3 separate regions of the Homo sapiens genome follow, and regions 2 and 3 are each linked to region 1. The links come from fine-mapping of genetic effects on gene expression. A gene starts in region 1. Each other region holds a variant in brackets. All regions are shown on one strand. Distances are from middle to middle. Region 1 holds the start of WWC3 (WWC family member 3). Region 2 has its middle 19 kb from the start of CLDN34. Region 3 overlaps WWC3 (WWC family member 3).

Region 1 (10,592 bases):
AAAGATTGCTCATTTCTGAGTGAGATAAATTTTCCTTCTTGTCTCTGCAAGCCTGAGACTTCTGAGCTGCTCTGCCTGGCTCATAAAGCAGAGGTCTGTAGTTTTAAGGATCTGTTTTTCCAAATACACAGGGGACCAGAGCTCTAATCCTAAATAAGAGAGAAGCCAGCCAGGAGGAAGTATCTTGTAGTGTGCTGGCTCACGGCTGCTGCCTCTTCCTAAAATTATGGTGTGCTTAGAATACATTTTGAATTGGCCCCTTCACATTTTGTGGAACAGAACCCATGGGAAGGGGAGGAAAATAAGTAAAAGTGTAAGGCTGGAAGAGGAGACCTGGAGACGAAGGAAGTGAGTGGCTCTGAGTTTTCTAAGTTTGGGAGAGAAATTGGTCTACATTTTTAAAAAATCTGAATTTTAATCACCCAGGCACAAATGCAACGTGCTTAAAGCATGACAGCCATTCACTGATTCCAAGGATGATGTTGTTTTGTGATGCGCATCCAGACACGGGAATTAAGCGCTAAAATGAACCAAACGCAGACTGGCAGGTTTATCCACACAGTGGACGCTTTGGGAATACCCTGCCTGTCTTTGGAGTGGAAGATTAGGACATGAGAAAAACCTGAATTTTCAAAATGGACGCATCTACACAAATCAAGGAAGTCCCAGTTGAGAAAAGTGCCCCCCGTCCACACACGAAATCTAAACAGTGACTTTTTTTAATACAAGTCAAATAAGTGTCTAAAGTTTACGTCTTTACATAAAGCCATGAAATAAAACACCAAGAAATAACCTCACCCTGTCCCCATTCCAACTCCTGAGCCTGGGGAGGGTCCCCTTAGGGATCTTTGCAATTTACCCTTCCTTTGATGCCCCTAAACCAGCAAGACAGGAATGAACAAGAACAACATCTAATCTCCTCCAGTGCTTGTGGATTTGCATTATTTAAATATATGAGAAACACCCATAATTGAGTAATTATTCTAGCATTTAAAGAATGCCAAACAATGAACCATTTCTTCTTCAGACCTAATCCGGCCCATTTCCGTTTTCCTCTTAGCACAATGTGTAGAATTACCCAATGTGTCGCTTCCTAGAACACTTGATTGTTTATACAAGGTAGGCAAGACTTCTCTGGCGGTGTTTATTTTTCTCATTTTACACTTGATGATTGTAGCCTTTACAGATTTTCCTTTTCTAGACGCTTATCAAGTACTGAATGTGTATGGATCCAATTTTGCACTTTCCTTTTTACAAATAAAGCTTATCCTTTAGGCGAGGGCTGGGGAGAGAAGGCAGAATCTGATAGTAAAAATCTTCAGACTCTGTCCTTGTTGGAGTTACTCCTTAACCATCATTTTAAGGAAAGTATTCTGCAAGTTAGAGATCAGTGCATTGTAACAGCTTCAGAAAGGGGATTTCCCAGAGGGTCTGGGAGGAGAACAAAAGCATTTGCATCTCCTTTCCCCAGAGACTAAGTGGATTTTTCCTGAGCTGCTTTTCCATGTGAAGTCTTGGTGGGAGGATGGAGCACTACACAATGTTCGTGCTTTTGCTGTTGGCCCGGCTGTGGTTTTAATGCGGAGGAAATAAAGAATGTAGAATTGTGCATTCAGTTAGGACTCAAGACTCCTTCGCCCTGCAGTGTTTTGTGTGTGTGTGTGGTTTTTAGTCCGATGTGGAAAGCCCCACTTGACTGTAAGAAAGACAGGCCTTATTCTAACAATTCACACACACACACACGCACACACACGCACACACACACACACAAAGAGAGAGAGAGACAGAGAGAGAGAGAGAGAGAGAGAGAGATCGATCCCAATTTATGGCAAAGCTGGGAAGTCAAGAGTCCCTTCACACCCCTACCAATTTCTCTTCCTTTCCATCTCCATTCACAAGTCTTTAGGGACCATCAGCAAACGCCTGGGGCTAACATTGCACACAAGTGGAAAAGGACTAATGGTGTAATAAAGAGGTCTTGGTCACCCCAAGCGCTGGCCTCTTCCTCTCTGGTTCAGCTCCTTTTAGGAAGACAAATGCAATAGCCCCACTTCTGTTCTCTCAGGCAGAGAGTGTCCAGAGGCAGTGGCTGGGCATGTGGATGAAGTTTTCTCAGTGAGGGTCTCCAATCTCTCTTCTCTGGCATGCTGTGTCACACTTCTTTTGCCTCTATTAATGTGCAAATGAAAGTAGGAATGCCTCTAGATGTTTTGGTGATTAAATGAGCTCGTATTTGCTAAGTGCTTAGATGACAGTAAGTGTGCAGGAGCCTATCTTAGGTCAGGCTCTTTAGAAAGGGTGCCTGAGACGGGGGTTCTCGAGTGAGCGGCTGATTGGAGGCATGCTTACACGAGTAAGGGAGGCGGGACCGGGCAGGGGAGGAGCTGGCAAAGCTATGATTTCCAGAGAAGTACAGCCTCAGCCTGATCCCATGGGGGATCCCATGGGGAGCTCTGGGGTGTCAAGGGCATTCGAGTTTGTGTCACCAAGGCAAGGAAACTGGACGGTCAGCTCCTGGGGCTGGGTGTAATCTCTCAGACATCTGTGTTAATGAAGGGTCATCTTCACAATACTCCAAAAGAAGGGAGCCCGCCCCAGCATCTGCTATACAAGTAAACAATTTCATGACAGCAGCTCCATGTGCCAAGGGGCAAGAGCTCAGAACTTGGGAATCTGAACATCTGAGCCTCAGTTTCCTCATCTGAGGCACCTTCCCTTTGGTCTCACAAAGCCTCCCACGAGTCCCCAAATTGAGGTTGGCACCCTGGCTTCATTTGTTGACAAGTGACAATTGTATTACAAGGGCCTATTTCTATGTTTAGTCCCCAAGGGAGTGCAAGCTGAAGCACAGACTATCCTCTTCCCTGCAGCATGCCTACACGCAGCACAGTGTCTGCGCGTGGGAGGTCCACTATTTGCTGCCCGCCTGAACGGGTAGAAATCTTTCACCTTCAGTGAAGACTCCTCGGCGCTGGCCTCTTTGAGCTCCTAATTGGATGCAGTTTCCCCCACTCCTTGCTCTACCTGATGCTTTTTTCATCTTGCCTTTCCTTCTGAGTCCTTTGATGTGTGGTGTATGTGTTCTCCTCTTTCCACTCTCTCTCTGCAGAAGTCGGTTTCACTCCAATACGCCCCAGCCCCATTCAAAGTACTTTCGAGTGATAGATTTGTGTCCAGATTTGTGAGATTCTAAAAGGACCAGGTGACAGGGAGGGTGGAAATGCAGCTTCAGAACGGCCATGTTGGGTGGTAAGGTAAGAAGGCAGTGGCAGCCCCACTGGCGATAAATCATGCCAATCGGAAGGGAAGATGTCAGAGCAGGGACACTCAGCACTTGGGGCATTCCCTGGCACATGCGACATCACAAAATATGTGCTTTTTTGACCCTCCCACTCTTTCCCTTGGACATGTAATAATCACACATGTTTAAAAGGACTCATGCGGTGGAATTTCTCACATAGAACATTCAGGTAGGGGTAGATAGATACTTGGGGAGCAAGAAAGTTTCTGTGTTGTAGTAGGAGGAGGGAGAGGAAAGACCTTCCTTGGATAGTTTTTTGGACGTCGCTATACCTTCACAACTTCACATTCTTCTTCTTCTTCTTCTTCTTTTTTTTTTTTTTTTTTTTTTTTTGAGACAGGGTCTCTGTTCCATCGCCCAGCCTGGAGTGCAATCGTGCAAACACGGCTCACTGCAGCCTCGACCTCCCTGGCTCAAGTGATCCTCCCACCTCAGCCTCCCAAAGTGTTGGGATTAAAGGTGTGAGCCACCGAGCCCGGCCCCACATTCTTCTAATTTTTTTTTTGTTGTTGTTGAGATGGAGTCTCACTCTGTCGTCCAGGCTGGAGTGCAGTGGCGCGATCTCAGCTCACTGCAACCTCCCAGGTTCAAGCAGTTCTCCTGCCTCAGCCTCCCGAGTAGCTGGGATTACAGGCGTGCGCCACCATGCCCGGCTAATTTTTGTATTTTTAGTAGAGACGGGGATTTCACCATGCTGGCCAGGCTCGTCTCGAACTCCTGACCTCGTGATCCGCCCGCCTGGGCCTCCCAAAGTGCTAGGATTACAAGCGTGAGCCACCGCGCCCGGCCCATTCTTCTTTTTTAAAACAACCTTTCCCCTCATAAAAGTAATATTACCATTTTACAAAAAATTGGAAGGCAAATCATTTTTAAAAATCCCGCCAAAGGAATGCAAACTCTTGTGAGCATTTCAGGACATTTTCCTCCAGTCTCTTCCCCTGTGTATCTGGATTTCAATCAGGCTCTACCAGATATTTTTGTATCACTGTAACTGTTTAAAAATCTCCCTGATACTGTCCTGCATTTCCTGGCATAACGTGTTGCGGCTGTGGGTCTGGGGCACGAAGTAGGTGGGAGATTTAGAGCAAGACACAGCCCCAACTCTGGAGCTTCAGCTTCCCCAGCTGGGAGCCAGTGAAACAGAAGTTCCCGTCTAGGCTGAAAGTTTTAGGAGTTGACCCGGCTTCCTCCCCAGCAATGGTCTACTTGGGTCTCCGCTCAAACGATCAGACCCCACAAACCGGATGAAGCGCTCAGGGAAGGTCAAGGAACTCCCGCCTAGTGTGGGCCCCCAGGTTAGCCCTTCTAGGGCTGTCCTGGCGGGGACGCAAAGTGGCCACCTGCCCAGCTGCCCGCTTCCAGAGGCGTCCTCCCTGCGCCGCCCGAGAGGACCGGCCGCGGGCTCCCCCAGCTCCTCAGCTCCCTCGGCCCCGCCTTCAGGGGCTTTTCCCACCTTCGCGGGACCAGACGGGTTGTGTGGGAGACCGAGGGCGCAGCCTCCCGCCAAGTGCGCAGAGGGTCTCCAGACAGCCAGAGCCCGGGAGCGGGTGAAGGGAGGGCACTGCCCGCTCTCTCGGGAATTGTTTGCGCCCGAGGAGTCACCCCAGGCAGGCCGCGCCCGCAGTCCGGGTAGGGCGTCGTCCTCCCCGCCCGCCTTCCTCTACGCGGGGGCCCGGGGGCGGACTGACGCGGCGGCGCCCATCCTGGCCTCCATGCGGTTTCCCGAGGCCGGAGGAAGGTGGCGGAGCGGGAGGGAGAGAGCGAGGAGCGCGCGGAGAGGGAGGACGGCGGAGGGGGAGGAGCAAGCGGAGGGGTGGGGGTGGGGTCGAGGAGCCGAGCGCCGAGGAGGACCCCGAGGGAGACTGGGGGCGGAGCAGCCGGCGACGGAGAGGCGCGGAGGACGCGGGGCCGGGGGAGGCGGAGCAGCGGGAGTGGGTGGAAAAGCAGAGGCGGCGGGAGGAGCGGGAGCCTCCGTGGGAGATTCGGGAGGAGCAGCCGGCGTGGGTGGAGCCGCCGGCGTGGGAGGAGCCGCGGGGCCTGGGTGAGAACGGGGCGGGACGGCCGGAGGCGGGGCCTGCGAACGCCCTGCCCCTGCTCGCCCGGGCCGCGCCGAGGAACGAAGATGGCCGGGCGCGCCGCGGGAACGGAGGGGCGGCCGGCAGCGGCGGCGGCGGCGGCGGCGGCTCCCGGGCTGTGACTTCGCGCGCGGCGGCCACCCGGGCTACCTGAACGGAGTGGGCGGCGCGGGCAGCGGCTTGCTAGGGCGGGCGGGCGGACGCCGGTGCACGGGCGCCGGGCGGAGGATGCGCCAGGAGCGGCGGGCGGCTCCCCGCGGCCGCCCCCGCGCCCCGGGCGCCGGGCCTTAGTGCTGGCGGAGGAGGCGGCGCGCGCGGGGCGGCCGGGCGGCGGCGGGGCCCGCGCCGTCATGCCTTGGCTGAGCGGCGGCCGGCGGCGACGGCGGGGACAGCCGCGCGAGGCCCCGCGGGAGCCGCCGCCTTCTGCGCAGCCCCAGCGGGAACCGCGCCGCCGGCGCCCCCCGCCGCGGTCCCCACGCCCCCAGCTCCTTCCGCGCCGCCGCCGCGGGCCCGGGAGAGCGCCGAGCTGCCGCTGCCCGCCGGCTGGGAGGAGGCGCGAGACTACGACGGTCGCGTCTTTTACATTGACCACAACACGCGCCAGACGTCGTGGATCGACCCCCGCGACCGGTAAGCGGGCCGGCTGGGGGCGCCAGACCCGGCGCGGGCGCTACGACCCGGGCCGCCGGCCGGCGCCACCGCGGATGCGCTGGGGACACGCCCCGCCCAGCGCGGGGCCGCCGCCGAGAGCCCCCGGGCCCGGGCAGAGCTCGGAGCGCCTCCATCCCCGGAACCAGGGGACTCCCTGGAGTGCTCCGGTCCAGGCTACGATCGAGGCGCCCCCATCCCTTGGGCCCAGGGAGAGGATCGGAGACACCAGGAGGCCCTCGGGGCTGGGTGAAGATCTTTGGTTCCGGGGGTCCGGGAGAGGATCCACCCTCCCAATACCCCGACTCCCAGGGCTCTGACCAAGAATGGAGGTGCCCCTTCTCCAGGCCTCGAGCCCTCTGAGCGCCGAGGCCGGCCGCCTACAGGTCCCCCGCCGCTGGGCGGACCCTCTCATTCGGTTCCCTCACGTCACCCGCTGTCCGGCGCCTGGGAACTGGGCTCCTGGAATTTCCTCTCCTGGGGCTGACAGATGGCCCTCTTTTCCTTTCTCTGCGGCAGCCTCGCCCATCCCGGTCCCGGGCGTCTGCGGCCCACTGCCCCGGCCCTGGTTCTGCAGGTGTCCCCAGCCCCGCGGTGGCGAGATGAGCTGTCACCTTGGATCACAAACGTGCGCCCCAGCTTTGGGGTGCGGGTTCCCTGTCTGGCGGGTTCAGGCTGGTTTCCATCCAAAACCTGATGTCAGACGGGCCCTTGAGGGATTCCCAACCCTTTTGGAGTTGGAGAAGTCTGTTCCCAAACTCTAGTTGCTCTTTAGCGCCTTAAAACTCGTGAGTTAAAACTGTTTGAAATAGCCTTCTGTACTGCAGCCAGAATGCAATATGATTAGTCCCATATGCTTTTGGAATAAACGAAAAACAAGAATTGTATTTTAAGTTTCCTTTTTGTGAAAGATATGCATGGGGTACAAAGCTGTCTTATTCACGTATAAAAACCCAATCAAGTAAAAACTGATTCTTGTAAAAGCACTATCAGATTTCATTTAATTAATTCCATGTAACGAAGCTCTTCCTTAACTTTTTGCTCGATTGTCTACGGGTTTCGATTGTTCAACTGCTTTTACAGAGATGTATTTTGTGTGGAATTGGGATTTCTGTGGACATCAAGTGTTTCCACAGGTTATCTGATGTCTTGTCCTCTCTAGAGCAACTCTCCTTCCAGGGCCTGAGTGCCAAAAAGGAAACACCACAGGCTTCCCAGTGATTTGAAGACTTGCAAAGGCCCAGTGTGGTGACATTGTGCCTGCTTCCTCCTACCTGCACAGGGAAGGCGGCCTGCATGGCACTGGCGTCTGAAAATAAACTTTTGAGGAGAGAAGCTGCTGAATTGTTTGAAGATTTCTCTGAGTTCAAGCAGGGGAAAACAAAAGAAAGCAAAACAAAAAGATCGTGATTCCCTAACATTCTCGCTGAACATTGCAAACCTCTGGGCTCAGAAACCTATATCAATCCTAGTACAATTTTATGGGTTAAAAAGATGCCTAGTTATTTTGAAAATCAGGTGAGATCATGTTATAATTTTAACCAAAGGCTAGAGCCCCAGCTGTTTGATCAACCCTTGGATGGTTCTGGAATTGGTAGAACTGCTTGGAATGCAGTGCCCTTTTATACCATATGTATGTTAAAAACCCAAACAACTGGAAAATGAACCAATTAAAATAGTGTTTTGCTTAGAAAAGGCTAAGGCTCACTTTCCAAGGGTAATATAAAACAGTTGTGGTTATATTGGAGTGGAGATTCATGCTGAAAGATATCAATGTGAGGATTTTCTTTTTAATGGTGTAACCTGTGACAAACGTGAATGGACCATACAGAAATCAGCTTGGAGAATCTTGTTTTCCATGTATTTCAGACACATTTCCTATATTCCTTTTTTCCAGAAATCGATTTGTTACTTTTCAGACAATCACTTAAAGGTTTTTAAAAAGTCTCCGTTCTGATGCTAAAATTGTCAATTGAGTCAACAAAAGTGGATATTTTACCTTTTTTTTGTAAAGTAAAAACGTGTGTACTTTTATGAGACGTTGTTTTTATAGTGAGTGAAAATTCAGCAGGGGACAGCTTGAACTTCAGCTCCCATAATACCTTGCCCGAAATATGTATGGAATGTTCAGCAAGCCACAAACATTTAAGTGGAGTCGGCTGAAGGCTGTAATAGTCATTCTTCTTCCTCTTTCAAAACAGAACCTGGCCGAGTTTTATAGGTGGCGGGTTACCCTTTAAAGTTGTAATTAACTTTTATTATATGGGAAGAACTGCATGTCAGAGGGCAGTGTTTTCTCCATGCGCATCTGACAGTTAAAACCCTTTTTGAGTTGCTTTTGAGTCACACAGGAAAATGGTATTCAAGAAATACGAGGACTTTCACCAAACAGCTTCCACATAGAGACCTGACAGGAGAAAGGCAAATACATAATAGCTTTTTTTTTCTCTTTAAGAAAATGAAATTGTGGTGGAATAAATGAATGTAGTAGGTTAAGTGAAAATTGTTGTTGACTTTAAACATAATTTCATATAAACTTTAGTAAAAACTGTATAGCATAAAATATGGTCCAAGGATTGTAAACAAAATCTCTTCTTGAGTTTTATAGTAATTCCATTCAGTGTTGTGTTTAACATTTGATAGTGCCGGCTCAGAGCCTGTTGGTGAAATTATTGTAACTGCTTTTTAAAGTTACAACAAAGAAGATACAAGGAGACGTCTTTACGGATGTGGCTACAGATGTATACACAATCTCAATATTTTAAAAACAATTTTTTAGTTTGATTATAAGCCTACCTTTGGTTGGCTGGGCGTGGTTGCTCATGCCTGTAATCCCAGCACTTTGGGAGGCTGAGGTGGGTGGATCACTTGAGGTCAGTTCAAGACCAGCCTGGCCAACGTGGTGAAACCCTGTCTCTACTAAAAACACAAAAATTAGCCGGACGTAGTGGTGTGCGCCTGTAGTCTTAGCTACTTGGGAGGCTGAGGCAGCAGAATCACTTGAACCCTGGAGGTGGAGGTTGCAGTGAGCCGAGATCGCGCCACTGCACTTCAGCCTGGGTGACAGAGAGAGACTCTGTCTCAAAAAACAAACGAAAAAACCTACCTTCACTTTAAATTCACTATTTCTATAGATTGATACTGTACATATAATTTTCATAGTTAGTTTACTGGGAATCATACCCAAGAACTTGGTTAAAAACTACAAAGTTAGGCCAGGCGTGGTGGTTCATGCCTGTAATCCCAGCACTTTGGGAGGCCCAGGGGGCAAGATTGCTTGAGTCCAGGAGTTCGAGACGAACCTGGGCAACATAGGGAGACTCTGTCTCTACAAACAAATAAAATAATTACGTGGGCGGGGTAGCGTGCGCCTATAGTCCCAGCTACTCAGGAGGCTGAAATGGGAGGATTGCTTGAGCTGGGGAGATCCAGGCTGCAGTGAGCCGTGGTCATGCCACTGCACTCCAGCCTGGGTGACAGAGTGAGACCTTGTCTCAAAAAACGAAACAAAACCCCACACCAAAAAAAAAAAGAAACGAAAAAACAAACTACAAAGTTAACTTATTTCTATGGCTGGTAGTTTCCTTACATGAGTCTTGTGTGGTTTACATTAGTGGCACACTAATATCTTAACTGAATATATTAACTCAGAATAACTTGACCACCTTATGAAAAGGTATTTACCATTGGGCAGAAAATATGGGAAGAACATTTTTGCCCCCTTTGTAAAGATTCACTGTCTTTGACAGTTGTGTTTACGTGTGTGTCTTGCAGGGTTATTTGGGTATTATCCTATAGATGGACTGAGTGTTTGAAACCTCATGTTCCATTTCCTGTAGCTCAGGTGGAGTTGTACGGTACTGGAAATGCCAGCTCTGGGCAGCTTAAGTATGGTGGACGATACCATATTTGAGATCAAAGTATAAATAATCATGCGGATGGCGGAAGAGCAAGATCATGTCATGGCATAAGCTTTTGGGGACCCATTTGTTCACCAGATGGGATTTGACCTGTGCTTCATGGAGGAATTCTGTGGTATCTTAAAAGTCTTCTGAAGATGCTTTTGCTTTAAGAGGAAAACAATCCATAGCTCTGGAATTTGCTAGGTTGGATCCCCATTTAACAGCCAAATAACATCATTGCTACCTTCTTGGAACCTTTATTTAGTTATTCAGTATTAACTAATAGGAGGTTTACTATATTCATCCCACAGAGTCTATTTTTGGACTATATAAACTGTCCTGGTTGAGCTTTCTGATAAACAGGTAATGATTTCTCCCTTTTTCTTTTTTTAAGGTTATAGATAGTGTTTGTATGAACATGGGGGAGCATCTTGTTTTTAAGGCTGTAAGGGGTCAGTCCCTGGAAGAAGCGGCTCTTGCTTCCATTTAGATCATCAATCCTCATTTTTTGGTCTAACATTTTTTGGTCTTTTCCTTTCCTTCCATTTATTTGTTTATTTATTTATTCATTTATTTATTTTTTAAAGAAAAGTGAAAGGAAAAGTAATTCATTTCCAAAAATAGCTCCTGGATGTTTGGAAATCTCCAAGTTTCCTTCTCCTTCCT
Region 2 (10,592 bases), 28 kb before region 1:
GAAACATTCTCCATTGGAAACAGGGAGAGCAAACCAACAGTACTTGCTAATAGATTTGATGACGGGGGAGGGTAGAGGAAAGTATATCAGATCTTGTTTTCTTTTTTAAGAGACAATGAAGCAGAAGATATAAAAAGAAAAACAATTTTTTTGTTCCTTGTTCTGTTCTCGTAATTATTTTTGCAAGTTTTGTAAGTTCCTGTTTTTCCCTTCTGTGTGGCACGGCAAGGTCACAAGATATGTTTTAAGTTGCAAGGCCTGTCACTGTTTAACAAACTGCCTTTGTTCTGCTTCTGTAAGCTTGCTTGCCTGCCCTACAGGTTTTGTGCTATCAAACTGGCCAACCCCCTTCTGGATGCATGTATAAAAGTGAAGCCCTGTCTTTGTTCGGGGCTCAGCCTTTGGATGTTAATCTGCTGGGCCGGTGCGCACCTAATAAATCCTCCTGTCCCACCCATTGGTCTCTACTGTCCCTTAATTCCTGCAATAACAAGGTCTCACTTTGTTGCCCAAGCTGGAGTGCAGTGGCACAGTAATAGCTCACTGCACCCTCTACCTTGAGGGCCCAAGCATCCTCCCACCTCAGCCTCTGGAGTAGCTCGGGCTACAGCGTACACCACCACAGCTGGCTGATTTTTTGGTTTTTTGTAGAGACAGGGTTTCCCTTTGTTGCGCAGGCTGGTCCTGAACTGCTGGGCTAAAGTGATCCTCCTGCCTCAGCCTCCCAAAGTGCTGGGATTACAGGCGTGAGCCACTGCACCTGGCTGGAAACACTCTTAAAAAAGCTTGAGGTGGCCGGGCGTGGTGGCTCACACCTGTAATCCCAGCACTTTGGGAGGCCAAGGCGGGCAGATCATGAGGTCAGGAGATCAAGACCATCCTGGCTAACATGGTGAAACCCCGTCTCTACTAGAAATACAAAAAATAAGCTGGGCGTGGTGGCGGGCACCTGTAGTCCCAGCTACTCAGGAGGCTGAGGCAGGAGAATGGCAAGAACCCAGGAGGCAGAGCTTGCAGTGAGCCGAGATTGCACCACCGCACTCCAGCCTGGGCAACAGAGCGAGACCCCATCTCAAAAAAAAAAAAAAAAAAAAAAGTTTGAGGTTAGTGGTCCATTTTTATTTCTATTTTATTTTTTAATTGACAAATAATAATTGTACATATTCTTGGGGTGCATAGTGATATGTCAATACATAGAATGTACAGCAATCAGATCAGGGTGAGTAGTGTATCCGTAATCTCAAACATTTATCATTTCTTTGTGTTGAAAACATTCAATATCCTCCTTTTAGCTATATATTTCTAATTTTAATTTCATTTTCTAATTATTTTATTTATTTATTTATTTTAGAGACAGTGTCTCACTGTCGCCCAGGCTGAGTGCTGTGGCACAATCACAATTCATAGCAGCCTCAAATTCCTGGGCGCATGTAATCCTCCTGCCTCAGTCTCTTGAATTCAGCTATTCAAAACTATTTATTATTTTTAACTCTAGTCATCTAACAGTTGGTATAGAACACTAGAATTTATTTCTCCAATCTAGCTGTCATTTTGTATCCTTTAACGAAATTTAAATGGAAAGTTAGAGAAAACCAACTCAAACTAGCTTAAAAAATAAATCAGGCTGTCCAAGTAGTAGTTTCAGAAACAGGTGGTTCCACAGATCTGATATACTTTCCTGTACCCTCCCCCCATCGTCAAATCTATTAGCAAATACTGTTGGTTTTCTCTCCGTCAGGTAGCTTGGACCCATCCACTTCACCTAGCAAACCAAGCTTCCATCATTTCTCAGCAGAAAACCAAAATGAGATGGTTTCTCCACTTTCACTGTTGCCTTTCTGATTGGTCCATTTTTAAACAAATTCTACTTTACCAAAAGTCACTTTTCTTGAAAAGTCCGGGTATGAAGGAAAAGGTGTTGGTTTTGCAGCCAGTGTGTTGGCATAAAGCTGTGTGGTGATCAAAAGAAGGCCTCCAGTGGAAAGGAGAAATCCACCCATCCAGCCGCTGGACATGGCATTGCCGCATCCCCCCGGGGCTTGTTGGGTGGGAACTCTGAGCTTTAGAACCTCCACACGGTAATATGGGCAACGTAGGACACGGACGCTCAAGTAGTGAGTCCGGCCAGAAAAACCAGAGCTCCCCCAGCAATGTTGACACTTCTCTCCCAAGAACTTCCTCCTCGGCCCCAGCATCTCAGCCACATCAGTCCCAGGATGACCGCCACAAGCCCGAGAGAACCCACAGCCCCGGCCACGCACGTGAGGACACGAGCCACCTGGAGTTTGGCAGCCAGGTTCTTTGGGCTGGCACACACTGGCACCTGTGTCTCGAGTCACACATGCTTCCCAAAGGCCCAGCATGTACTTCTCACTCTCGAGTAAACCCGAGGAGAAAGTCGGCCACTGAGGCATGCACACACAGGCCACTGAGGCATGCACTTGGCAGGCCACTGAGGCATGCCAGGGAACAGACGCGGCCAGCCACAGAGGCCAAGAGCCCCACATTTTGAATCAGCCAGATCGCCCTGCTTTTCATCCTGCTCTCCAGGCCCAAGTTATTCTGGGGAAACTGTCTCTCGGTCACAACAGGACTGGCTCGTTAGATTGACATCTTGACGGATTCGCCGCAGTTCGTGCCAGCTGGTCTGCAACCATTAGTTCAGTCCTTTGTCAACCAACCAGAATGCAGCTGCTTATTAAATCGGGTTACTTGGTAACTGGGCTGCTATTGTTCACCCTTAACTAACGCAGATGAATACCTACCATCAAAATAGGCCCAATAGAAAACCTGCTGCCAATACAGAGCCAGGTGGGAGAACCAGCAGATTGAGACAGGTATGCAGGCTTGGGAGAATTCTTGCTGGTTATAAAAGGCATGCATTTTAGCAATTTTATTTCCAAAAGGTAAACAGTTTGGGATACGGAGTTATTAGACATTAGAGTCATCTATCACGGTTTGTTTTTTTTTTTCCTTTTCTTTTTTTCTTTGAGACAGAGTCTCGCTCTGTCACCCAGGCTGGATTGCAGTGGTGCCATCTCGGCTCACTGCAATCTCTGCCTCCTGGGTTCAAGCAACTCTCCCTGCCTCAGCCTCCCGAATAGCTTGGATTACAGGCACACACCACCACACCCGGCTATTTTTTGTATTTTTAATAGAGATTGGGTTCAGCCATGTTGGCCAGGCTGGTCTTGAACTTCTGACCTCAGGTGATCCGCCTGCCTCGGCCTCCCAAAGTGCTGGGATTACAGGCATGAGCCACTGCGCCTGGCCTGATCAAGTTTTTAAAAAGAGTATTTCTTCACTTTTAATTATTTTAAATTCTCTTTAGTATTGTCTCTTCCAGGGTTTGGTATCTGTATCTGGTTCCATCATTCCTAAACCTACCTTCAGAGAAAACATCTAATTAATTACCCACACCTTCCATTAAAACCAGAGATTGGGATCATTTTGAATTAGAAGAGACAGACCCTTATGATCCCACAATTGTGTTCCTTGGTTTTTATCCAAATGAGCTGAGAATTCACGTCCACAGAAAAACCTGCGCACAGATGATTATAGCAGCTTTACTCATAATTGCCAAAACTTGGAAGTAACAAAGATGTCCTTTGGTAGATGAGTGGATAAACAATGTGATACATTAAGACAATTGGATATTTTTCAGCACAAAAAGAAATGAGCTATCAAGCCATGACAAGACATGGAGGAACCCTAAATGCATATTTCCCAGTGAAAGAAGCCCATCTGAAAGGCTACGGACGGTAAGAGTTCAACAGTGTGACCCTCTGGAAACGGCAAAACTATGGAGACAGTAAAACAATCGGTGGTTTCCAGGGGCTAGAGAAGAAGGAAAGATGAAGAGGGGATTGCAGAGGATTTTTAGGGCAGTGAAACTATCTGTATGCTACCATAATGATGAACACATATCATTGTACGTTTGTCCAAATCCATAGAATGTACAACACCAAGGATGAACCCTAATGTCAACTATGGATTCTGGTGACGATGACATGTTGATGAAAGTGCCCTGAGGGATTGTTCACAGACCTACACCAGGAAAAGAAGTTTCTGCTCATGAATGCCACTCTGGCTCTCAACCTGTGCATGAGTGAGATCCCCACAGACGGGAGCTCACAGTTCTCTTTCTGCCCCCATTAACCTGGAAGGAATCTGGCCTCAAGAGGTGGGCAAGATTGGATCAGGCACCAGAGGCCTTGGCGGTCATTCTTGTCAGGCAGCCTTGCCAAGCTGGAGGCAGAGGCTGGTGACAGGTGGGACAGCAATTCCAAGGAGAGGTGGTGATGGCCCAAATCAGGGGCATGGCAGAGCCGTGGGGAGAGAGGAAGAGAGATGGAGGGGCAGCAGTGCCGGGATGTGGGGGTTACTGGGAAACAGAGGACAAGCAAATGCGGTGACCGGAGGGGACACCTGCACTTCTCCGTTGGGCAACTTCCCGTGCTCACGGAGGCCTCTCATGTTGTTCGTAAGCTACTGAGGCAGTGTGTGACGAGATGCTGAAACCTTGGCTGGTAAATGCACTTCAGGCCTTCAACTTCCTGGCTACTACAGCCGAGGTGGGGTTTGGGTAGCTGTGAGTAAGCCAGATGCGACGGACCGTGTAGTGATAGAGTCCTCACTGAAAGGTCCAGAAGAAATCCCATAAGGTCATCAAACCCAGGCTCTGAATGGAGTTCCACTAGGACACAGTGGGCCCGTGGATGGTAACTGTCACATCCACAAGGCTATTCCTTGTGGCACAATCTTCGTCATAGGATCATTGAAACAGCTGAACTTGGTGGGAAGAAATCGGGAAACAGCTTTTGTTTTCCTACCACTACCTTGCAAACACGATGTGGATGAACCTTGAAAACATGATGTCGAGTGAAAAAAGTCAGACACAAAAGGCCACAAATTGTACAATTCCATTTATATGAAATGTCCAGAGTAGAGAAATTCATAGAAACAGAAAGTAGATGAATGGTGGGCAGGGGCTGGGAAGAGGGGAATGGGGAGTGACTGCTCATGGGCACAGGGGTCGTTTTAGGAGGGACAAAAATGTTCTGAAATTGATGGTGACAATGGTCGCACAACCTTGTGAATGTACTAAAAACCACTGCATTGTATGCTTTACACAGGCGAGTTGTACAGTATGTGGATTATACCTCAGTAAAACTGGTATATATATATATATATATAAAGAGAGAAAGAGCGAGAGAGTTCCACATTAATTTCCGATAAGCACCCTTTGTAAACTAAAAAAACAAAAGACACTTCATTCAATGCTGTCTATCTTAAACGAACACTTAAATATATCTTTAACGATGAAGGATTAGTACAGTTTTTTCTAACCTTGGAGTGGTGGGGGCCATTTCAGGATCGCCTGTGGGGCCTTGTTCAAATCCACCCTCCCCCCAGCAAAGCACCCCCTTCACTGACCCTGGTCTTCCCACACTTGTGAATCACTACATTAGAAGAATTCCCTGAAAATAGGGAACCAGACTTGAAAACTTGTCATTA[C/T]CAAAGTTACGTAAGATTGCTCTGGAAGTTCCTTTTTTTTTTTTTTTTTTTTTTTTTTTTGAGACGGAGTCTCAGTCTGTTGCCCAGGCTAGAATGCAATGGCGTGATCTTGGCTCACTGCAGCCTCTGCCTCCCAGGTTCAAGCGATTCTCCTGCCTCAGCCTCCTGAATAGCTGGGATTACAGGCGTACACCACCACGCCCAGCTAGATTGTTCTGGAAGTTCTAGCCAGGGTGCTGTAAGTCAGGAGACAGAGAAAAGAGGTATAATTATCCTAGAAGGGTGTGTGAATCTTTGTTCAGCTAAGTTGACCCTATACCTAAAAAAAGTCCAAGAAAAGTTATTACACTACAACAGAAAGTTCAATTATATAGCTGGATACTAAATACACAAACATCAACAATCTTTTCGTGTTCCTACACAATGAGCCAGTTTGAAATTAGAATTGAAACAGAGTACTTTCACACAAAAAAGCAATAAACTCCCAAATATCTAGCAATAAGCTTAATATGAAATGTGCAAGACCCTGTATGTTGCAAACTGCTCAACCTTAGTAAGAGCCAAAAGAAGCCATGGAGACATGTCCCCAGTCCCAGATGGGGAAATTAAATTTTGCAAAGTTGTTCCACCTTCTGAGATTAATTTGTTGGCTTAATGTGATGCTAAGCAAAATGTTTATGAAAATCGGCAAATGCAAAAAATGAGCAAAACCTGCATGTATTAAGATTGTTACAGTTTATTAAGTGTAAAGTTTATATCCAAAGAAAACCAGTGTAAACACATATCAATCTCTAGTTAGTGGCATACTTGCTGAAAACTTAGGGGGATGTGTACTGATGTCTGCAATTTACTATGAAATGTATGAAAGAATAAGATGGATTGATGGATGGATAGAGGGATGAACAAATGAATAGGTACATGAAAAAGACTATAGTAATCTGCCTCTTATCAGAGCAGAAAAATGAATAAAAAGAAAAAGGAAAATACAGTAGAATGTTAATGAGAGAATCTGGGTGGTATTTGAGTTGTTCGCTAAAATTTTTTCAACCTTGTTTAATATGGGAAAGTTTTTGGCTGGACACAGTGGCTCACGCCTGTAATCCCAACACTTTGGGAGGCTGAGGCGGGAGGATCGATGGAGCCCAGGAGTTCAAGACCAGCCTGGGCAACATAAGGAGACCTTGTTTCTACTAAAAATTTTTACAAAAATTAGTTGGATGTGGTGTTGCATGCCTGTGGTCCCAAATACTCAAGAAGCTGAGGGAGGAGGGTCTATTGAGCCCCGGAGTTAACGGCTGCAAGGAGCTATGATCACGCCACTTCACTCCAGCCTGAGTGAAAAAGTGAGACCCTGTCTCAAAAAAAAAAAAGGTTCATAATAAAATGGGAAAAATACAGAGCAAAGAACAACAAAAACCAAAATGCATATAAAAGAAGATTCCAGCTTGAAAAATATGAGCTGGATAAAGATGGGGTGGAAATGGGCTAAAATGTTAACTATGATGAAATTATAGGTGATTTTTATTTACTTGTTCATACTCCATGCATTGATTGAGCTTTTTCTTTCTTTTTAAAAACAATATCCAAGTACTACTTTTATTTTAATTTTTTTAAACAGGGTCTCACTCTGTCACCCAGGCTGGAGTGCAGTGGTGTGATCTCGGCTCACTATAGCCTCAGCCTCCCGAGTAGCTGAGACTACAGTCATGTGCCACCATGCCCGGCTAATAGTTTATTTTTTTTTTTGCAGAGATGGGGGTCTCACTTTGTTGTCCATGCTGGTCTCGAACTCCTGCTTAAGAGACCTTCCTGCCTTGGCCTCCCAAAGTGTTGGAATTACAGGTGTGAGCCATTGTCCCTGGATCAGGAGTTGCTTCTTATGGATGAGCAAAGAAAGTAGTTTCTTAAGACACAATCTCCTCCTGGTGAAGATGTTGTGAACATTATTGAAATGACAACAAAAGATTAGAATATTCCATAAACTTAGTTGATAAATTAGTGGGATTCTTCCATTTCTCCACCAGGTGACAGCATAAGCACGTCAAAATAGCAAAAATTGTCTCAGAACACAGTATTTGGTCTGACATTGAACATTACTGCTGTTAATTGACTAGGTGTTTATTTTGACATGTTACTTGCACAAAGGATTAGAATATTATGTCAACCTAGTTGATAAACCAGTAACAGGGCTTGAAAAGATTGACTCTACTTTTGAAAGAAGTTCTAATGTGAGTAAAATGCTATCAAAAAGCATCGCATGCTACAGAGAAATCTTTTGTGAAAGGTAGAGCCAATTGATGCAGCAAACTTCCTTGCTGTGTTATTTTAAGAAATTGCCATAGCCAACCCAGCCTTCAGCAATCACCACCCTGATCAGTCAGCAGCCAGCGACATAAAGGCAAGACCCTCCACCAGCAAAATGATTACAACTCACTAAATGCTCACATGATCCTTAGCATTTTTTAGCAATAAAGTGTTTTTTGTTTTTTGAGACTAGGTCTCACTCTCGCCCAGACTCCTGGAGTGCAGTGGCACTATCACGGCTCACTGAAGCCTCAACCACCCGGGCGCAAGCGATCCTCCCACCTCAGCCTCCAGAATAGTTGGGACTACAGGTGTGCACCACCACGCCTGGCTAATTTTTGTATTTTTTGTAGAGATGGGGTATTGCCATGTTGTCCAGGCTGGTCTTGAATTCCTGAGCTCAAGCAATCCTCCCGCCTAGGCCTCCCAAAGTGGCGGGATCACAGGCATGAGCCACCTCGCCCGGCCTGCAATATAGTAATTTTAATTTAGGATACTACATTTTTTTAAGGCATAATACTATTGCACACTGAAGACTACAATATAGAGTAAACATAATGTTTATATGCATTGGAAAACCAAAAAAAATATGCGACTCAGGTTATAGAGATATTTGCATTATTTTGGTGGTCTGGAACTGAACCTGCAATATATCCAAGGTATGTCTGTGGGTGTGTGTGTGTGTGTGTGTGTATGTGTGTGTGTGTGTGTGAGATGTTCATGGCAACATTTATTTTTAATAGAAAAGAAAAGAACTGGCCAGGCGTGGTGGCTCTCGCCTGTAATCCCAGCACTTTGGGAGGCCGAGGCAAGTGGATCACCTGAGGCCGGGAGTTCGAGACCAGCCTGAGCAACATGGAGAAACCCCATTTCTACTAAAATTACAAAATTAGCCGGATGTGGTGATGGGTGCCTGTAATCCCAGCTACTTGGGAGGCTGAGGCAGAAGAATTGCTTGAACCCAGGAGGTGGAGGTTGCGGTGAGCCTGAGATGGAGCCATTGCACTCTAGCCTGGGCAACGAGAGCAAAACTCTGTCTCAAAAAAAAAAAAAAAAAAAAAAGAAAAGAAATTAAAGCAACCAAGATATCTGAATATCTGAACAGGGTCAAAGGGTCAAACTACTAGATATTTGTATAAATGAAGAAACTTGATTTTAGGTAAACAAAGCAAGAATCAAGTATAAGAACCATGTCCAAGATTAGCACCTAAATAGCAGAAAAGCTGACTTTATACTGAGAGAACTATTATACCCTGATTTGTGTATCTCTCCTACCTAGGAACTCAGAATCTTGAGTCAATGGTAAAGTGAAATTATGGGTAATTTTTTCTTTCTTTGTACTTTTATGGATTCTTTGTTCTATACTGAGCATGTATGAATTTTTAATAAAAGTTATAAATAATGAACACATCTGGATTTTATAAATTACTCTACATTCATAAAGCATTCTTCTGCAAGGTGGCAGCATAAGCCCTTCCGAGTACAGTATTTGTCCTGAAATTGAACACTATTGCTGTTCATTGCTCAGTTGTTTATTTTGACATGTTACTTGCACAAGCAAATTATTCATTATATTGTTAATTTTTATGAAAGAATTACTATATATTTATTGCAAAGTTGGTATACAGAATAGGATAAAACTCTAAATCACCTGTTGTGGCACTACTCAGGTATAACCAAGATTAACACTCTGAAATTATCTTCATGTTCACAGATGTGTGCTGGAAACAGGAAATGACATGTTTTTAAAGCAAAATGTGCCACCCCATACAATTGTTTGCTTTTTAAAATTTAAAAAAAAAAAAGTTTGTGGCCGGGCACGGTGGCTCATGCCTGTAATCCCAACACTTTGGGAGGCCGAGGTGGGCAGATCACCTTAGGCCAGAAGTTCGAGACCAGCCTGGCCAACATGGTGAAACCCCGTCTCTACTAAAAATTCAAAAATTAGGCGGGCATGGTGGCAGGCACCTGTAATCCCAGCTACTCGGGAGGCTGAGTCAGGAGAATCACTTGAACCCGGGAGGCAGAGGTTGCAGTGAGCCGAGATTGTGCCATTGCACTCTGGCGGGGGTGACAGAGCAAGACTGTCTCAAAAAATAAATAAGTAAATAATACATAAACAATGATTGCGAGTACATAGTAGGTGTATATAGTAGGAAACTACTGAAGAAGTTTGAAGCTAGCAGAGGCTAGTTCATGAAGCTTAAGGAAAGAAGCCGTCTCCATAACATAAAAGTGCAGGGTGCAGCAGCAAGTGCTCCAGAAGACCTAGCTGAGACCACGGATGAAGGTGGCCACACTCAACAACACATTTTCAATGTAGACGAATGGGCTTATATTGGAAGAAGATGCTACTAGGACTTTCATACCTGGAGAGGCTTCACAGCTTCAAAGGACAGGCTGCCTCTTGTCAGGGGCTAATGCAGCTGGTGACTTTAAATTGAAGCCGACACTCATTTGCCGTTCCAAAAATCCTAAGGCCCTTAAGAATGATGCTAAATCTACTCTGCCTGTGCTCTAGAAATGGAACAAAGCCCGGATGACAGCACGTCTGTCTAGAGCATGGTTTACTGGTTTACCGAGTGTTTTAAGCCCACTGTTGAGAAGTACTGCTCAGAAAAAAGATTCCTTTTCAAATGCTACTACCCATTGACAAGGCACCTGGTCACCCAAGAGCTCTGAGGGAGAGCTCCAGGGAGATTCACATTGTTTTCAGGCCTGCGAGCACAACATGCATTCTGCAGCCCATGGCTCCACGGATCATCTCCCCT
Region 3 (10,012 bases), 90 kb after region 1:
GGGAGGCTGCTTGACATCCTGTTGTGTACAGGATGGCCCCCGCAGCAAAGACTTACCCGGCTCAGCATGGCCGCGGTGCCAAGGTCCAGAAACCTCGCCCTGGGGCTTCTTCCTGTCTTGCTCCTGAATCTTCACGATGCATGGACAACAAGGGGCCTACATGAGCAGGTCGCCTGCTGACTCACAGGCATCAGCCTGCTCCCCACTCACCCTGCTCCAGCCAATCGGCCCCTCGATGTTCCTCAGATGTACAAGCACGCCTGCACTGAGCAGCCCCTCGGGCCTCCCACCGGGCCTCAGTCCCACCGAGCCAACTCCTGACCTAGCATCTGCAGCTGGCAGAATGATGGTCCGTCAAGGTGTCTGCATCCTGATCTCCACAGCCTGTGAAGATGTGGCTTTCCATGGCAAAAGGGACTTCGTGGATGTAATTAAATTAGGGATCCTGAGATGATGGGGAAATGAGCCTATATGATCCAGGTGGGCTCAGTGTCATCACAAGAGTCCTCATAAGAGAGAGACAGGACGGTCGGCAGTAGAGAAGGAGATGTGAGGTTGGAATCAGAGATCAGAATAGTGTGGGGCCAGGAGCCAAGGAGCACGGGCAGCCCCTAGAAGCTGGAAGGTGCAAAGAAACAGATTTTCCCCTGGAACCTCCAGAAAGAACGCAGCCCTGTAGACCCATTTTCGACTTCTGCCCTCTAGAACTGTAAGGGAATAATAGGTGTTGCTTTAAGCCATTAAGCTTGTGGTAATTTGGGGCAGAAAAGAGCAAACTCATACAGTGCCCTTGGCCTGTTCTGTCTTCTCTGTCTGGAATGGGGTGGCTTTTCTCCAAATTGTCACATGACCTCTCCTTTTGATCACCTTGTTAAGAGAGGTTTCCTTGACCATCCTGAATAAAACCTCACCACCCTGTCCTCACCCCGGTCCCCCTGATTGGCTGAGCAAATGTTATTACCTAACCAGTGTTTACTTTTCTTACTGCCTGTCTCTCCCTGTGAAAATGTAAATAACCCTCATGAGTGCAGGGATTGTAGGTCATTGCTGTAAGCCCAGCAGCTACATACTTGGTGAATATTTATTGAATGAGTAAATGAGGGTCCCGTGTGGTTGCATTTGCTATTTGGCCTTTGCCCCTGGGACGGGGCAAGCCAGGGCAGTCCCGGGGCCAGGTCAGCTCCAGGCCAACTGCTCTGCTCCTGGGTCCCTTCCTCAAACCTCCATCCAGGTGTGAGCCTTGGGGTCTCTCGCCTTGACTTGAGAAGGGAAAGGGCTTCAAGACATGGGTGCCTTTAGGGATCTGAGGTAGGCAAGGAACTGTCTCTCCCTTTCAAGGACTATGTTCAAGGTGTGATACGTCAACACACCGAGCTAGACTAACAGTTCTGGGCCTTCATGGACATTCAAAAGGGCTACTAGCCTTTGAACTCCATAATTAATCCTCTCCTTGGGGGTTGGAGAAAATGGCATTGGAGTTGGGTCCTGAAGGAGTGCTGGGATTCCAGTCGCCGTCCATTGGGGATGGGCTTTCTCAGGTAAGAGTGGGGGTCAGGAGTGGGGGTAAGGTGTCACTCTGCAGCAGCTGGACTGGCCTGGAATTGCAGAGCAAAGGCCAGCCAGGCTGGAATGGAGGATGCATGAGCAGGGAGGCAGGCCACGGCATGGGGGCCACGATGCCCCGAAGAGGGGTCAGAATTGCTGGGCATGCTGGGACGTTTGAGTTGGAAAGATTAAGTGTGAGCCATTCAGATGGTGGTATGTGGAGGAGGGCCATTTGAGGAACCCAGATGGCATAGAGATGAAGTCACCGAGCAGCTGGGCTCACCTTGGGAGATGGAACACAGGGAGAAAAGAGGAGATGCCAGGACTGAGCCTGAGGAAGTCCAATCAAAGGCCTGGCGAGGACGAGACTGGCCAGAGGGGTGTAGTAAAAGGTCCGAGAGGGGATGGCTGGGGCTGGAGGAAACAAGAAGAGGAAGTACACCTGAGAAGACACTTATGTCCACGGGCCCAGTGGCTGTGAAGGAACGAAAAGGGGGTGGTACCGTTGGCCGACAGGCAGGCCTCTGCTTCCCAAGCCCAGCCTGAGGTGTCCTTAGTCCACAGTGCATGGGAAAAAGGAGGGCCAGCGGCAGGTGTTCCTAAAGCCAACTCGCTGCTTTCCAGTCAAAGAAGCCTCTCATTCTCAGAGATACATACATATGTACATACATACATATAAATATATATAATTAATATATGTTTTATATATATTTAATACATATTTATTGTATATTTTTATATATTATATTTATAATACGTGTTTAATATACATTTTTTCATATATATTTTTTTCTGTTAAAACATCTTTCTCTTAATTAACTAATGATGATCATTGATGTGAATTGGTTTTTTCCAAAAGTCTTTACTTGGCAAAATAACAAGCTGGCAGTCCTAAATTGTTGCCATCAGCACATCCCCTTTCTTAAATTGGACTGGCCTGGGGGAAGTGTGACTGAGATGGTGCTCTCCCTGGAATTAAAGGAGAAGGATGACCCTAAACAGGGTTTCCAGAGGCTCACAGTAAAGTGGAGGGTCATTTGAAAGGCAGATCTTGGTTTTGACCATGAGTTTGGTGTTTTCAGTGGACTTGAAGCTGCTGAGAAACATCCATGAAGTGTTCTTGTCGGTGGAGTCCGCAGTGGAGATTGCAGTTCGCTGAGTCATTGATTGCAGCTCCCTCCGGGCTCTGGTTCCCAGATGCGGCGGTGCACGTCTCCAGTCCCCTTGGTGTGATTGTTTCTGCCTCCAGTCATTCCACATTGGTTACTGTAGCTAAGGCTTGACCAGTAAGTGCATGCCTGCCATGTGAACTACTCAGCTGTAGGTCACATAACCCTTAGCAGCCTGGGCAAGGCCCTAGACTTTACATACCTTGTAGCGTTGTCAGGATAGTCTTGGCTCCCCTCTGCCCCATCCCTGTAGACAGATGGAAGGCTAGGAAGGGTTGATGTTATCAGGTCTCCCCAGCACCAGATGAGCGATTTCATTACAATGGTGTTTTCCGAGTGTTCTGATGGACTGCCTCTAAGTGAGGCACGAGAGTAGAACGATACAGACTTGGGGAGAGAGCAGTGGCAAGTGGTTCTCTGGCAAGAACTCAACATTAACATTCCAGGAGCCAGGTGCTGAGTACCACAGGCAAAGCATGGTGGCTTTGAGGTCCCGTCCATGGTCTCTTCCTCGGCCCCCTTGATCAGGCTGGGAGATAATGTCTCTGATATCCCTGTGAGCGTCCCTGGAGAAGTGGTGTGCCATGAGCAGGAAGGCATCATGTACCCCCATCAACCCACCAAAGCATGAAAAAGAACACGTTGCTCTTAGTGGCAGTGTTAGCAAAGAATAATGCGTTCTTCCCTGCTCCCTCATTCCAAGCCTAAGGGACATCATGTGCCCTTTCCTCTTGCCCAGGTGAACTTCTATTAGATTAGTGCCACAATTCAGTGTCGTCTTTTCGTTCTGCTACTTCGCCGTTGGACATTAATCTCCCAGCTCTCATTCCTGAAATCATTTCACCCTGCAAGCTTACCTTCCCTACTGTATTAGGTTCTGCAGAGAAACAGAACCAACAAGAGTAGGGGTAGGGAAGAGAAGGGAGAGAGATTATTTTATTATAGGAATTGGCTCACGCAATTATGGAGGCCAGGAAGTCCCACCATCTGCAAGCCGGAGACCCAGGAAAGCCAGTGGTCTCATTCAGTCCAAGTCTGAAGGCCTGAGAACTGGGGGTGGGGTGGGGTGTGGAGTGGGGTGGGTGGGTGGGTGGTCATAGTGTAAGTCCCAGAGTCTGAAGGCCTGAGAACCAGGAGCTTTGGTGTCTGAGGGCAGAAGGTGGATGTCCCAGCTCAAGAAGACAGACAGAATTCACCCTTCCTCCACCCTTTTGCTCTATTCAGTCCCTCAATGAATTGGATGGTGCCCACCCACATTGGTGAGGGTGGATCTTCTTTGCTCAGTCCACTGATTCAAATGCTTATCTCTTCCAGAAATTCCTTCCCAGACACACTCAGAGATAATGTTTGTACCAGCTATCTGGGCAAGCTTTAGCCCAGGCAAGTTGACACACAAAGTAAACCATCATGTATATCCTCTGCAGAACCTCCTGTGCTTTGCCACTTCTGAACAGTGGAGGATTTTATGCCTTAGGCATTTTGGACGTCTTTCCTTGCACATATATATTTGAGATTATTTTTAAGATGTGGGAAATTGTCAAAAATGCCGAATTCTGGACAATGAGGGATTTCATATATATATATACATTCAGATTTTTTTTCTTTCCTTTTTTTTTTTTTTTTTTTGAAGACAGGGTCTCGCTCTGTCACCCAGGCTGGAGTGCTGGAGTGCTGGAGTGCTGGAGTACAGTGGCGTGATCTTGACTCACTACAACCTCTGCCTCCTGGGTTTAAGCGATTCTTGTGTCTCAGCCTCCTGAGTAGCTGGGATTACAGGCACGTGCCACCATGCCTGGCTAATTTTTGTATTTTTAGTAGAGACGGGGTTTCACCATGTTGGCCAAGGCTGGTCTCGAACTCCTGACCTCAAGTGATCCACCCACCTCAGCCTTCCAAAGTACTGGGATTACAGGTGTGAGCCACCCCACTCAGCTGGATTTCATATATATTCAGATTTAAAGGAAGTTTGTGGAAGTGGAACTCATAATTCTGAGTGGTGATGTGATTTCTAGAGAATTCTCTGGCCAAACGACCACTATCATGATGACTAGTTTTGTGTTTTTAACTGTGGGTCCTGTGAAGCGTACCAAAAGGACTGCTTGCACCTTGCCTCAGGAGCGCCTCTTCGGATTCCCAAGGCAGACCTAATGATAGGAATATTCACACTATTGATTTTAAAATTTCAGAAATTTTAAAAGTGAAGTTGAAAGAGCAAGTCTTCTTGAAGCAATCCCGATGA[C/T]GCAGATGGCTCCTTATTTTTAACTTAAGGGCGCTTGTTCCAGAACTGTGCACAAACTGTAGCTGTTACCATAGAAACACTCTCAGTCCAGATAGGAACAAAACATTCGGTCCATCCAGTTTCTCTGCCTCTTAGTTTTTGTTGCCAGGATCAGTCCTGCTGTTCATCAGTTGTCGAGGATCAGTGTAGTGTTATGATTCCAGTTGAATTTGATCAATCACTTGGATTTTTTCATTTCTCAAATGACTTCCTATCTGGGTTTTAGGGGTGGGGCACAGTTGTGAGAAATAAGGAAAAGCATCTTTGCCACTGTGGCTCTGTCTTCCCTATTCTGGTCAACACGGAGAAGCCTGTAGACTCACTGCTTTTTATTTGATGAAGTTGCTCTCTGAAGATCTGTCTGTTGCAAAGGGAGAAGATGTCAGGGCTGGGAAGCTGAGGACGGGGTGAGATATTGGTGTATTAGTAGACCTTTCTTATCCCACATATTCTAGATTCAGACTTCTCAAACTTCTGACATAAAGAGTTGAGTAGAATGGACGCTGGTTTAGTTCAATCAGCTGAAGTGATTTCATTGTCCATCTGACTTACATCTCAGCTGTTTTCTTTAACCTTTGCTTTTTATTTAAATGGGTATTTACAACAAGAAAACTAAGAGAAAATGTAAGGAGTATCGAACCTGTAGCCGTAATTGCAATCTGAAGGTATGAGGCTCTAAGCTGACCCCGCGTCCTGGAATGTGCCATTGGGATCCCTCACGACTCATCACCATGGGATAGGACCGTGGGCTGTCCAGAGTTCTGCTTGCTATTCCAGAAAGCAGCAGGATTTTAGGACCATGAGAAATGATATTGTAGACTGCAGATTTTTGGTATAAATTCAAATAATTAGGGATTATTCTTGATATGCCTCAGAACTTTTTATTATTGAAAGTGCATTGTTTTCCTATAAAAATGCAAATCGTATTTAAGATTTTCATGTGAATTGTGAGAGTCTAAATAGTTTCTGCGGCATAAATGCATGGTTTAATGGTGCCTGGGTTGTAACAGAAAAGTGTTTGAGCAAAAATCATAAGGGAAAAATGATTCATATTTTATGTCTGTCTACATTAGACCTGCTCAGGGAATAGAATTTGGGAAACACATAATAAATAAGAAACCTGCATGCTTGATTGAACATTTGCTTTCTTCACTATCAGGACACGGGGGCATATATTTTAAGGCTTTTAAAGGCATTTGGGAGAGATTTTATATAGGCCATAAAATGCATTACCCCTCAAAAATAAAAATCACTGAAGAATATAGTTGGCTCACAGAAAAAAAAAAAAATCCTCTCTAATTTTAAGCTGCTATTAGTTCTCTTTACAAAAAACTCGGGAAAGTTATTTTGTTTTGCAAACTTTAACCATGACCTTGCTTTACTTCCATGTATTTAATTTCACTGAAATGATATTTCAAAGAAAAGCCTTTCTGGAAATTGTTTTTCCTTTAATACCCAAAATTGGAACAACAGCACTCACAGGAGCGAGGCTCCAACCAGTGGATCAGCTGTTTGGCGTGGATGTAGAAGAAGGTGCATTGAAACTCAGTACATCTGTGTTTAGCCTTAGGCAGGAAGTCTGTTTCTTCAAGTAAACCTAACGTACTAAAGATACTCCCTGCAGATGGCTCGTTTCCGGCCCACGGCAAGGTAGACAAGTCATACGGTTTTAAAGGCAAAGCCGTCTTGTCTGTCTCATGGGGACATAAGAACAATCGATTGTTGAAGGAATCCTAGTGCTTTTGGCTTCCAGTACAGACAGACAGACAGATGTGCCTCTCTCGACCTTGCTGAAGCAGGCCCCAAATGTTCACACCTAGAACATGGGGACAAAGAAAGAAATTGAACTTTTCAATATGTTCCAGTTTCTTCTAGATTCATATATAGCTCTGAAATGAAGATGAGATTGTTTGCATTGTTGCATTGTTTTGAAATTTTATTATTAAACCCCACAATTGGAAGGCACAGAAATGTTTGCCTAGCATTCAGCACAGCCCAAACATTTCCAGATGGGTTGCAGATTTTGTTTCTGCTGGAGAGGTCGTCCCTTGCCGTTTGTCCTTGCATATTTTTCCTGCCAGCTGTGGGAAGTGACAGGACATGGTTTAATTTGGGCTGCTGTTCTGTTTCTTTATGCCTGCAGCAGACAGGTCTTTTGAAACTCACCCTTTGCCTCTCCTCCCTCCTATAATTCATTTTTTTCCTCATTCTTTTTTTCCTGACAGTGCATATTACTTGAGATTTTCCTGGAAAGGTTGTGATTATCTGGAATTGGATCTTCCGCCACCTTCAACAGCTTGAATCCTTGTAGGCTAGCAGCTAACCTAGAGCTGGCAGACTCAAATGGAATCTTGATCTCTTCATATTTAAGGCTCAGAAAACTCAAAAGGAGTGTTCTGTAAAATACTTCTGTTTATATTATATGTATGGTAATTAGTATGAGTATAAAATGGTCGGGCAAAATTTAGCTGGGCTCAGACTTTCCTGTGGATCAGATAAATGGAAATGAAAAAAAGTATGAGGACACAGATTTGCTGATTGTTCTTCATCTTTTATATTTATTTCTTAACTTGTCTTGGTCTACTGTAGAATGTTCCAGAAATGTCATTGGGTATAATGTCTGATTTAGCACTGACTTATTTGTGGGTTTGCTTGGAGTGTATTTTCCTTGGGCTTTGGATATATGACTGCCATAAATTTTAATTACACTAATTAGACGTAGGTGGATGCTTAAGCCCAGTTGGAGTCCTAGCCCTGTTCAGCTGCCTCTGTCATTAGTTTTTCTGGTGACATGGTTTGGCACCATCTTCCAACACGTTTTCCAGACATTAGTTTTAAGTTAGAAAATAACTTGTCTAATAAAGCTACTGACATTCAACTAGTGTCTTTACCTTGTTGAAGTGGACTTGAGTAAAATGCATACATTTAAACTGTAACTTGTGTACCCGTTTCTTTCCTTAACTGTGGGCTTTCAGATTCGTTTGGTGGCTAGAGAGGGAGTCATGCCCGATCCTCATGAGTCCATGTGCTCGTGTCTAGTTTAGGTGGAGCCTGACTTGGCACAAGGCTGGGTGGCAGGTTTTAACATGTGTGGCAATGCTAGTCAATTGGGGATATCCACATGGCTCATAGTGTAGAGAAGGCTTCTGAGGTCTAGACCCAGCAGGTGGGAAGCCAGCCTTGGTTAGTGCCGTGGACCGCGGGCACAGGAGGAGGCAGTCTCAGGAGCACCTCTGCCCTGCATCTCCCTCGGAGGATATAGGGCCACGTGTGCCTGCCACTTCCCTGTTCTCACAGCTCTTTGTGATCTCAGAGAAGCCTCTGGATTTTGTTTTTGGGCGAGTATGCCAACTATGTCCTCCACAGCATGGGGTTCAGGTTGAGTTTGCCATTCCTAGTTTCTCCCTAGAAACATATCCCTGATCTTTAACCCTACTTAAAGGGCTTAAAACATTCTACTCTTACTTTTAAAGGATGCTTTAAAAATACAGGCCACATCTGTTTCACTTAATCTGCATTCAACAGCACCTCATGACACAAAAAGTAATGCAGTCTGTTTGCCAAGCAAGCACTTGGAAATTTCGAGGCATGGAAACTGATAGGAGCCTCTGTTTTTCCACCTTGAGGATTGTTGCGCTTTGCATCCACCCAGATCATCTCTCACCAGCATCCATGCTCACAGGGCTGCCTCTCTTCCTCTCACATATTTGCAGGCGTGTTTGTTCACTGTTCAATGCACTCAGCTTTTGTCGAGTGCCCACTTGCTCTCCGCAAGGTGTTTTGAATTCATGTATGGCCAGGGGCTCTGGTGCAGGAAGGAGCACACAGAACCAGAAGACGCGGAGCATGGGGCTTCGAAGGTCTTTCCTTCAGGACGCCAGATGATGAGTGCATTTCTCCTTTGTTATTTTGCTAAAGCGGCTGACAGTGGTTAGACACAGCTGAGGAGGCGGGAGGCCGGCAGCACTTCTGGGGGTCCAGCATGCTGTTTAGCTACTGATGAGGGTGGGCAGAAGAAACAAGCAGACTCCCTCCTGCTCTGGGACAGTTTCATGTAGGAAACCAGGAGTCTGAGCCGCCGAGTATGGGCATGTTGAGGGCTGCTGGCCTTTTTGTCAGTTCTTCGGAACAGGCACGATGGGGTTATTTTCATCTCGAATCTCAGGCTAAGGGAGCTTCAGGAAAAGACTTCTGCACCATTTTTTAGGACATTGTTTCCATATCCTTTTAAGTGTAAGGGTCACTTGGTGTAATCATTTCACTACTTATTTGGCAAAAGGAGTTTATAGAATCAGTGTGAGACGTGGAGAAGGTGTGAAGACGGCGTTTTCAGTCCGCCGATGTCCTTTTTTCCTCCCCGTCTCTCTTGCAGAGTCGCCAACATCCAGCAGCAGCTGGCCCGGCTTGACAATGAGTCCTGGCCAAGCACGGCCGAGGCTGACAGGGACCGGCTGCAGCTCATCAAGGAGAAGGAGGCCCTGCTGCAGGAGCTTCAGCTCATCATTGCACAGCGCCGCTCTGCGGGAGATGTGGCCCGGCTGGAGGAGGAGCGGGAGCGCCTAGAGGAGGAGCTGCGGCGTGCACGGGCCACCTCCGCACAGGGCGCCACGGAGAGGTGGGTCAGCGGGGACACGACCTCCAGCGGAAAGCCTGCTGGAAAAACTCCACGGGGTGGCTTGTGTGTGGCTGGAGGGTGTTCCTGATGATCACTCAGAGCCTCTCCTGCCTGGATGTTCCCTGGCCTAGGAGGGGCATGCGGTGGGGGGCACTGCCTTCTGCTCCCTGGGTCTCTGGAGCCTCTGCTCCGAAGCAGGAGGTGATTGACAAGGGGGAAGGAGTGAGGGAAGATGGGTGACCTCCATCTCCGCCCACGCCCCACCCTTCCTGAAGTTGGTGCTTGGTGCTTCCACCTGCCTTTGTGGGACAGTGCCCTGAGCAGGCTGTGGTCCCGCTCCGGCCCGGGCAGCTCTGTTGCATGGGGGAAGAATTCCCTGTTCCTGACGTGGTGAGCATGGTGGGT

What was found. PIP is the estimated chance that this variant, and not a neighbour inherited with it, causes the effect.
Region 2: its variant is fine-mapped to the expression of WWC3 in whole blood (TOPMed, PIP above 0.99).
Region 3: its variant is fine-mapped to the expression of WWC3 in thyroid (GTEx, PIP above 0.99). The same link has a PIP of 0.9 or more in tibial artery.

Annotation. Positions count from the first base shown.
Region 1 is chrX:10,009,853-10,020,444 of GRCh38, forward strand. It overlaps WWC3 (WWC family member 3), which reads left to right and starts at 5,402. Exons shown (of 24, transcript NM_015691.5): 1 at 5,402-5,821; 2 at 5,824-6,006. The coding sequence starts at 5,727. RefSeq lists enhancers at 3,517-4,400, 4,401-5,284 and silencers at 5,105-5,274, 5,315-5,374.
Region 2 is chrX:9,981,420-9,992,011 of GRCh38, forward strand. No RefSeq gene overlaps it. Among named protein-coding and RNA genes, the nearest start is that of CLDN34, 19 kb to the left of the region's middle. The variant C/T (reference allele first, on the strand shown) is at 5,518.
Region 3 is chrX:10,100,414-10,110,425 of GRCh38, forward strand. It overlaps WWC3 (WWC family member 3), which reads left to right. Exons shown (of 24, transcript NM_015691.5): 10 at 9,365-9,607. Among named protein-coding and RNA genes, the nearest start is that of CLCN4, 52 kb to the right of the region's middle. RefSeq lists enhancers at 9,006-9,723, 9,724-10,012. The variant C/T (reference allele first, on the strand shown) is at 4,954.